Linked DNA regions of Homo sapiens. The protein of the gene in region 1 purifies or fractionates together with the protein of each later gene. This does not show direct contact. Each region holds a gene or a part of one and is shown on either strand. Other genes may lie near its edges.

Region 1 (4,230 bases):
AATCAGAACACCAGCTTTCTGGAACCATCTGAAACTGAGCTGGGACCCCTGGTGACCCCTTCGTGCCTCACTGATCAGGACTGAGGGTCCCTCTGGCACCTTCACAGTGACTAAGAGAGTCCAGAGCTGCCTGGATCTCAGAATGCTGCATTCTGGGATCCTCACTTTCTTGTACCACCAAAAGCTAACTAACCTCTCTGTGCCTTAATTTCCTAATCTATAAAAGGCAGAATAGGGCTGGGCGTGGTGGCTCATGCCTGTAATCCCAACACTTTGGGAGGCCAAGGCGGGCAGATTGCTTGAGGCCAGGAGTTTGAGACCAGCCTGGCCAACACGGTGAAACCCGTCTCTACTAAAACTACAAAAATTAGCCGGCTTGGGAGGCTGAGGCAGGAGAATCGCTTGAACCTGGTAGGAGGAGATTGTAGTGAGCCAAGATCGTGTCACCACACTCCAGCCTGGCCAACACAGCAAGACTCCATCTCAAAAAAAAAAAAAGAAAAACAAAAAACCAAGTCCCTTTCAGGTCTGAGTCTTCAGCCTCTTCATTTCCATAATAGTCTCTGCACACAGTGGGTGTTGAAACAACATTTAAGGATAATCACCACCACCTACCTCCAACACACTGCCAACTCCCTGATCTAAGACAGAAATACTTCTCCAGGGAAAACAAATGCCACAAATAACTTGAAAAGTAAGGTCATAATTGGTGGACAGATATGTGATAAAGCAAGTAAAGTGTCAATAGTAGAATCTAGTTGGTGGGGATGGGGATGCTGACTGTATAATTCTTTCAACTTGGCTGTATGTGGGAAAATCCTCAATAAAATGCTAGGGGAAGACGAAGGTTTTTTTTTTTAATTGTCACTTTCTATAGTGTTAAATATAAGTTAGCCTTCAAAGATAGCTCAGAGGCCAGGTGCAGTAGCTCATGCCTGTAATCCCAGCCCTTTCCGGGGCTGAGGTGGGAGGATCGCTTGAGCCGAGGAGTTCAAAACCAGCCTAAGCAACACAGGGAGACCCCATCTCTGTAAAAATAAAAAGTTAAAAAAAAAATTAGCCAGGTGTGGTGGCACATGCCTGTGATCCTAGCTACTTGGGAGGCTGAGGCAGGAGGATCACTTGAGCCCAGGAGTTTGAGGCTACAGTGAGCTATGATTGTGCCACTGCACTCCAGCCTGGGCAGCAGAGCGAGACCCTGTCTCAAAAAGGAAAACAAACAACAACAACAACAACAACAAAACAAAGATAGCTCAGAATTCACTGGATAAGCAAGCAGTTTAGCTAGACTCAGTCTGCAGGTTGAGCTCAATGAAAGGAGATTTTGACTTTCCTTCAAATAAATGACTAAGCACTAATTTCCTCATAGACATCATTGAATCTTCTGGGCAGTTAATGGGAGAAGACTCTGCTACAGTGAAAGGGAGGGGTGGGGGGTTGCTGTATTTACAAACTCCCTTCAGAGTAGAGACCCAGGCACCTGTCGTCACTTCCTAGCTACAGTTGACATCCGGTAACCATCCTTGGTCAGCCACACTTTCTTTCTGCCTCTGCCAAGAGGCTCCCCCTAGCTCCTCATGGGCCACTTTCTGGCTGTGAGCTGATCAGGCAACTTACACAGGGTCACTGGGTCAGAGGACTCTTGAAAGGGGGGTTGGAACATGAAGCCCCATGATTCAGGGATCCTGGGACTTGTTTGTTTTGTAGGGTTAGAGGGATGGAGGAAAATCTTCCAAATCAGCAGCCTCGAATTCACCAAGAATTTCTACAAGATGAATTTGAGTTGAACCTTCAGTCTTTCCACGAAGAAGGTCTGCTCGCCACCCTCAAAGCCATCTGCCTTTCTGTCTCAGTTTATTCACAGATCCTTTCAGAGACCAAAAAAAGCACCCAAGAGAGGCGGGGACAGAGATGTGGTAGAGGAAAAGACACAGTACAAAGAACGCTCCGCAAGCACTTACTTCCTCTGAGCCTTAGGAGTCCTACCTAAAAGGTTTCTTGCTTGTTTTTCTATTACACTGTCACTCCCATCCGGTATGCAAACAGTCGGCAATGCCTACTACAGTAGCTCGCTGGCTGCCAGGTGCAGGGGCTGTTCAAAAGCGACATCAGGGTCCTAAAAGGTGGGAAAAAGCAGCAGAACTTGCATGGTAGTTGATTCTTTCCTGAAGAATAGGGTCCGCCCAGCCCCACCGGGCAGGAGGTGTCCTGAGTCAGCCTGGCGTTCAGCCCAGTGCTGTGCACTTGGGTGACAGGTGGGGCCCCTGCACTGCCACCAGTAGCATATGTCGGAGCTCTGGGCCCTGACCATCTGCCAAAGCTAATCTTACGACAAGCAGATTTGCTCCCATCAATACCCAGGGAGAGGGATAGGCAGGCCCCTTGCTGCGTGATTCTCGAAAACAACCAGGATCCCGCGATCCGCTTCTCCTATGGCTCCAGTCCAAAGGCTGGAATGGGGGCGTCACCTGCACCAGGCAACTTCGCTAGCCTGTGGGCGTTCCAGGGCAGGGGACGGGGGCGGCACCTTCCAGGTGTGCAGGCGAGATGACAAGTGCGGTCCCTCCTTCCTCCCTCCCCGCGAGCAAACAGCCTGGGGGTGGTGGGGAAGGCGGCGTGCCCAGCCCTTCATCGCCCCATTCTTTCCCACGGCCCTGGCCGCCGCTGCAGCTGGGGCGCCACTCTGCACTCACCTGGGCCCGCGCCGGGCGGGGCGAAGTCGCGGTGGTAGGTCCTCGGCGTCCGGGAGGAGCGGACCGGCCCTCCCGGGGACCGGGCAAGAGGGTGGGCCGGAAGCGGCATCAGGCCCCGTGCCCATTGGCCAGCCTCGCCAGGACGCTGCGACCTGGGACGTGCGATTGGCTGCGGTGCGCCGCGTCGGTGCTGGCTTCGAGGTCGCGCGCCCGCCCACTTCCGGGGTCGCGCCAGGTCAGGAGTCCAGAGTCGGCTGAAGCGAGTTGCCGCGTTCTCTCTGGCGGCGCGACACCGGCCCGTGGACCGCCCGGCCGCCCTCCAGGACCCGGTCTGCAGGAGCGGAGAGGGCGGTGTGGACACCGCCTGCAGGCGAGGAGAAGGGGTGGCGGAGAGGGTACCTGGGTGCGTGGCTGTGCGGCGTCAGGAGGAGCAGGGTGTGGGCGCCCGGCCTGGGGCGTGGAGAGGACGCAGGGAACAGGTGTCTTCCTGGTATCCATCGAACTGAAACGTAGCCCTTGAGCACACACTACACTTAAAGCTTTACTCTTTCGAGGAGGAGTCCTGGAAGCATATGTGATTTTGTGACTATAGCATGGTGTGGTGTCAGTAACAGGCCCTGGATTGCTCAAACTCTATTGTCAGTGACAAAACCCAGTGTAAGCTGGCCTAATATATTAATAGTAATATGCGAGTCCTCCCGGGGTGGCGGGCACTGACGTAAGTGCTTTACTTGGGTCTTCTCATTTCATCCTCCCAGCAACCCAAAGAGCTGGCGGCGTCATTCCCATTTTACAAATGCGAACACGGGCTCAGAGATGGAGCGACTCACGTTGTAAGCGATGGAACTGGGATTTGAAAACACTGTATCCCGCCTGGCAGAAAACTGGCAAGGTTAGGATGGAGAAAGGAGAAAAAAGAAAGATGTCGGCCAGGTGCGGCGGTTCATACCTGTAATCCCAGCACTTTGGGAGGCCAAGGCGGGCGGATCACTTGAGGTCAGGGGTTTGAGACCAGCCTGGCCAAGATGGTGAAACCCCGTCTCTAGTAAAAATGCAAAATTAGCCAGGGGTGGTGGCGCATGCCTGTAATCTCAGCTACTCGGGAGACTGAGGCAGGAAAATCGCTTGAACTGGGGAGGTGGAGGTTGCAGTGAGCTGAGATCGTGCCACTGTGCCACCGCACTACAGCCTGGGCGACAAGAGCAAAACTCCTTCTCAAAAAAGAAAAAAAAGGGCATCTGATGGAAGGCTAGATACTACCCGACATTGAGCTAAACCAATGTCACCTGGTTGGACCTAGGGACCTATTCCTGCTCCCCCTCTAGTTCTGTCTCATTTCTGGGGTTGCACACAGGCTTTTCCTGGGCCTTCATGTTTGGGGAAGCCCCACACAGGCCAGCTCCAGTGGAAGAAAACGCCCCCAGAAGCCTCTTGTTCACCCCGGATGGCTCTGTGGAGTCCTGTGTCTGACCCTGACTTTAGCTTGGGCCTGAGGGACTGGCATTTGTGGACTTGGTCTGGAGATGTGGGCAGAGCC
Region 2 (3,500 bases), on another chromosome or scaffold:
CACACCCCAGTGTTCTTCGAAGCCTCGGCTACGGGGCGTCGCCCAGAGTGGCTGCCTCAGCTGGGGTTCCACGTGGCATCTGAGGACACGGTGCGGGATTTCACCCAGCGCTGTCGGTCACCGGCTCACCTGCTGGGCCAGGTGCTTCATGTGGCAAGGACAAGCTGTATCTCCCCATCCCCCCCATGCTGATTCCCCTCGGGGCCACAATCACCCCTTGGAGGGGCTGCATGCCTGACGTACCTGCCAACGTGCCACAGTCTCCCCACCAGCCCCGCTGCTCCGTGCAAATGCCCCACAGCGCCGGGTGACTCACTCCACTCATTCCTGCCCAGGCGGAGCTTGACTTCACTTCGACTCAGTAGCCCAGGGTCAGAAGGAGCCCTGTCCATCCCTCGCCCAGGGAGCCCAAGCCAGGACGCAGCCCCGGTGCCCAGAGTTCTCACACCTCGTTTCCTGCCCACGGGAGGGGGGCAGCACCCACTCAAGGGCAGACCCTGCTCAGAGTGACTTCCCAGCACACCTGCCGTGCCAGGCAGAGCCCGGGCTTTGCAGCCACAGTCTGGGCCAGGGGCAGAGGGGTCCCAACGGGCTGAGCCTGGGCTCTGGGGGCCAGCGGTCACATCCCCCTCAGACAGAGGCCGCCGTCCACCCAGATGGCAGCTGTTACAATGATCGTCCATCCAGATGGCAGCTGTTACAATGATCCTTTTTCTCATAAGAAGTGCCTGGTCCCACATGTCCAAGCTGGGGCTGTGATAAGATCAGGAAACAGGACTCGGCCTGGGGGCCAGAGGCCGTGCCAGCCACCCAGCTGCCCCCGCGTTCACCTTGGAGAAACCTCCCACCACCCTTCCTAGAACATTCCGTCATTGGGAAAGCAAGATGCGGCAGCTGCCACCTTCCTGGGCTGGAGGGTACCAGCACGCTACACCGGCGGCCCCAGGGACCCCAGTGACAGCAACGCCCTTTCCAAAGCTGTCCCGTCTCCTCTCCACGAAGCTCCTGGGGGCTCCCTTCAGAAGCCAGCTTCCAAATGCCCGGCCCTAAGATGCTGGATGGGCAGAGAATGGCGCAGCCTCCACTCCCCGAGGTACAGGCCCAGCTGTCTCAGATGTCCTGGAATCAAACAGCAAATGCCTGAACCCCATTTCGAGAGCTCAGCCTTCCCGGGTGCGAGAGCTCAGCCTTCCCGGGTGCGAGAGCTCAACCTTCCTGGGTATGGTGGGGCGGCCCCTCCTGCTGGACCACCTCCCTTTGGATCAAGGTGCTTGCTTCTTTAAAGACCATTTCCCCCTCAGGAATCAGGCCAGCCAGAAGTGTGGATGGTTCTGGAGGCCTGTGTGTGTTAACAGAGGCCCCTTTAAATATGCCCAGGACAGACAGTGCAGCCAGCATCCTCCCCGCAGGAGAGCAGCGGGTACCTCTGGCTGGGACTCTCCGCTGTTCTCACACCAGTGTGGAACGTCCCCGCCCCTCCCCTTGGGTCCCTTATCTTAGGGGACCGGGGACGTCCATCCCTTCTGCAGTGGCAGCCTCTGAGCCAAAGCGCCCTCTCCCAGAAGCCGGACTTTCCAGGACCCTCACTCCCAGCCTCACCCTGACACGGCCTGACTGGGGGTCTCCTGTGAGTCCCATGCTCGGCTTTGTCTGACACCTCCCAGGACAAGACCGTCCCTTCTCCCCAAACTGGGCTCTCCACCAAGAGCCGCGTTCACCCACGGGGGAGTGGGCTCCAGACAGGCCAGTCCTCGAGGGCCACACCCAATGTCCTGCATCCCTCACGGCCACCGTGGCTCCGAAGAAAAGGGCAAACCCCTCAGAGACCCTCAGACACGTGCACTCCACGGACGCCCGCCTGTGCTCAGCATCAGGTGCTCCAGACACTCCCCAGAACCAGCCCAGCCTGACTCCTCGGGGCACAGGGCCTGGAGTCTCTGCTGCCCCTTTGAAGGGCTCCTGAGGACAAGATCCAAGGCTGCCTGGCCAGCCCCCCGCCCTCCAGCACAGCCCCCTCCAGTCCTGCAGAGCCAGGGCCGCTCGTGCCCACATGGAGTGCTCTCAGCCCACTTTCCAGGGAAAAGAGAAAATAACCACCTCAGTAAGACTCACACAGAGCTTCCGGAACCTGATCCAGAGCTTGAAGAGTGCGCCACCATCATCACTCCATCACACCATAGCACTTACGCAGTGAAGTGCCCGGGGGGACATCTTGGCATCAAAGAAAAACGGCCTCAGAACAAACACCTCCACCAAATCCCAAGGCTGCAGAGCCCCCACGGAAGGCTAAAAACAACCTAAGAAACGGGCCCCTGTCCCCGGGTGGAGACTTCCTGTTGACACTCGGACACGTTTACAACATTCAATCTCTCCACCGTCAGCGCTGACCCAAAACCCACGCCAGGCACAGGTGGGGTGGCTCAGCTGGTGTCTGATAAACAAAGGCGAGGCTGTGCGATGAACCCGCCAGTCGGGGCTGAGCAGGTGTCTGCAGGGTCATCTGTTATACAGAGAAGCAGAAATACCTGCGAGTGCTTCAGTCAGGAAGGGCTGAGGAAAAGACCAGAACAACACGAAGAGCAGAGCATCTCCCTGGAGTTATGGAGACTCCTGAGATGCAGGATAAAGGAAAGAGGAACTTTCAGACACAGGGCAATCCCATTAATGCAAAGTAAGACTCCCATGCATATGTACACATGTGCAGCCGTGCACATGGACAAACTGTGGTGGGCAGAGCCATGGCCCCAAGGATGTCCACGGCACAACAGCTGGAACCCACAAGCGTAATTTTACGTGGCAAGGGGATGCTGCAGCTGGGACTCAGGCTGTGGACCTGGAGATGGGAGATGATCCACTTCTAACCACACAAAGCCTTAAAATCGAAGGACAAAAGATGGCACCATGAGGACTTGTCCAACACCGTTGGCTTTGAAGGGGGAAGAAGGGGCTTTGAGCGAAGGGAAGCGGCAGCCTCTAGAGGCTGGAAAAGTCAAGAAAACAGATTCTCCTCCAGAGTCCCAGAGGGACCCAGCCCTGACAACACCTTGGTTTCAGCCCAGTGAACTGGTTTCAGACTCTGACCTCCAAAACTGAAAGGTAAGACAGCTGTGTTGGTTTAAGCCACTGAATTTGTGGCAATTTCTTACAGTCGCCAATAGGAAGCTACATACCTATATGCAAATTGGCACAAACCCATGGGGGGATGGACACGGTGCCCCCACCTGACCACTGCAGGTGGCCGTGGTTAGTGGGACTCAGGAGCTCTGTTCCACCCTCTCATGTGTGGCTGGAGTCTTGCCGAGGGCCTGCCTTATCTAAGAGGGTCTTTTTTGGCCCCAGGTTGGGCTGTTGACTTCTGGGACAGACTCCAGCCCACCAGGAAGATCTCATCCCCAAAATCCCATCCTGGGAAGAGGAAGAGATGAAAACGGGAGGCTTTGGAGCTCCCACCGAGGGACTACGGGATCCACCTCTGCCCCAGTGCCTGGGCACTGTGCTAC

Evidence for each region. Proteins that work in one complex are often made in the same cells at the same time.
Region 2: the proteins of TECPR1 (region 1) and COL18A1 purify together in Homo sapiens (affinity purification with mass spectrometry; one large-scale study listed by BioGRID and IntAct). This does not show direct contact.

The regions. Positions count from the first base shown.
Region 1 is NC_000007.14:98,249,433-98,253,662, forward strand, and holds the start of TECPR1 (tectonin beta-propeller repeat-containing protein 1), read right to left. Parts: upstream 2,801-4,230; 5' UTR 2,694-2,800; intron 2,117-2,693; 5' UTR 1,962-2,116; intron 1-1,961. UniProt on the Homo sapiens protein: Tethering factor involved in autophagy.
Region 2 is NC_000021.9:45,464,165-45,467,664, reverse strand, and holds part of COL18A1 (collagen alpha-1(XVIII) chain isoform 4 preproprotein), read right to left. Parts: intron 1-3,500. UniProt on the Homo sapiens protein: Probably plays a major role in determining the retinal structure as well as in the closure of the neural tube.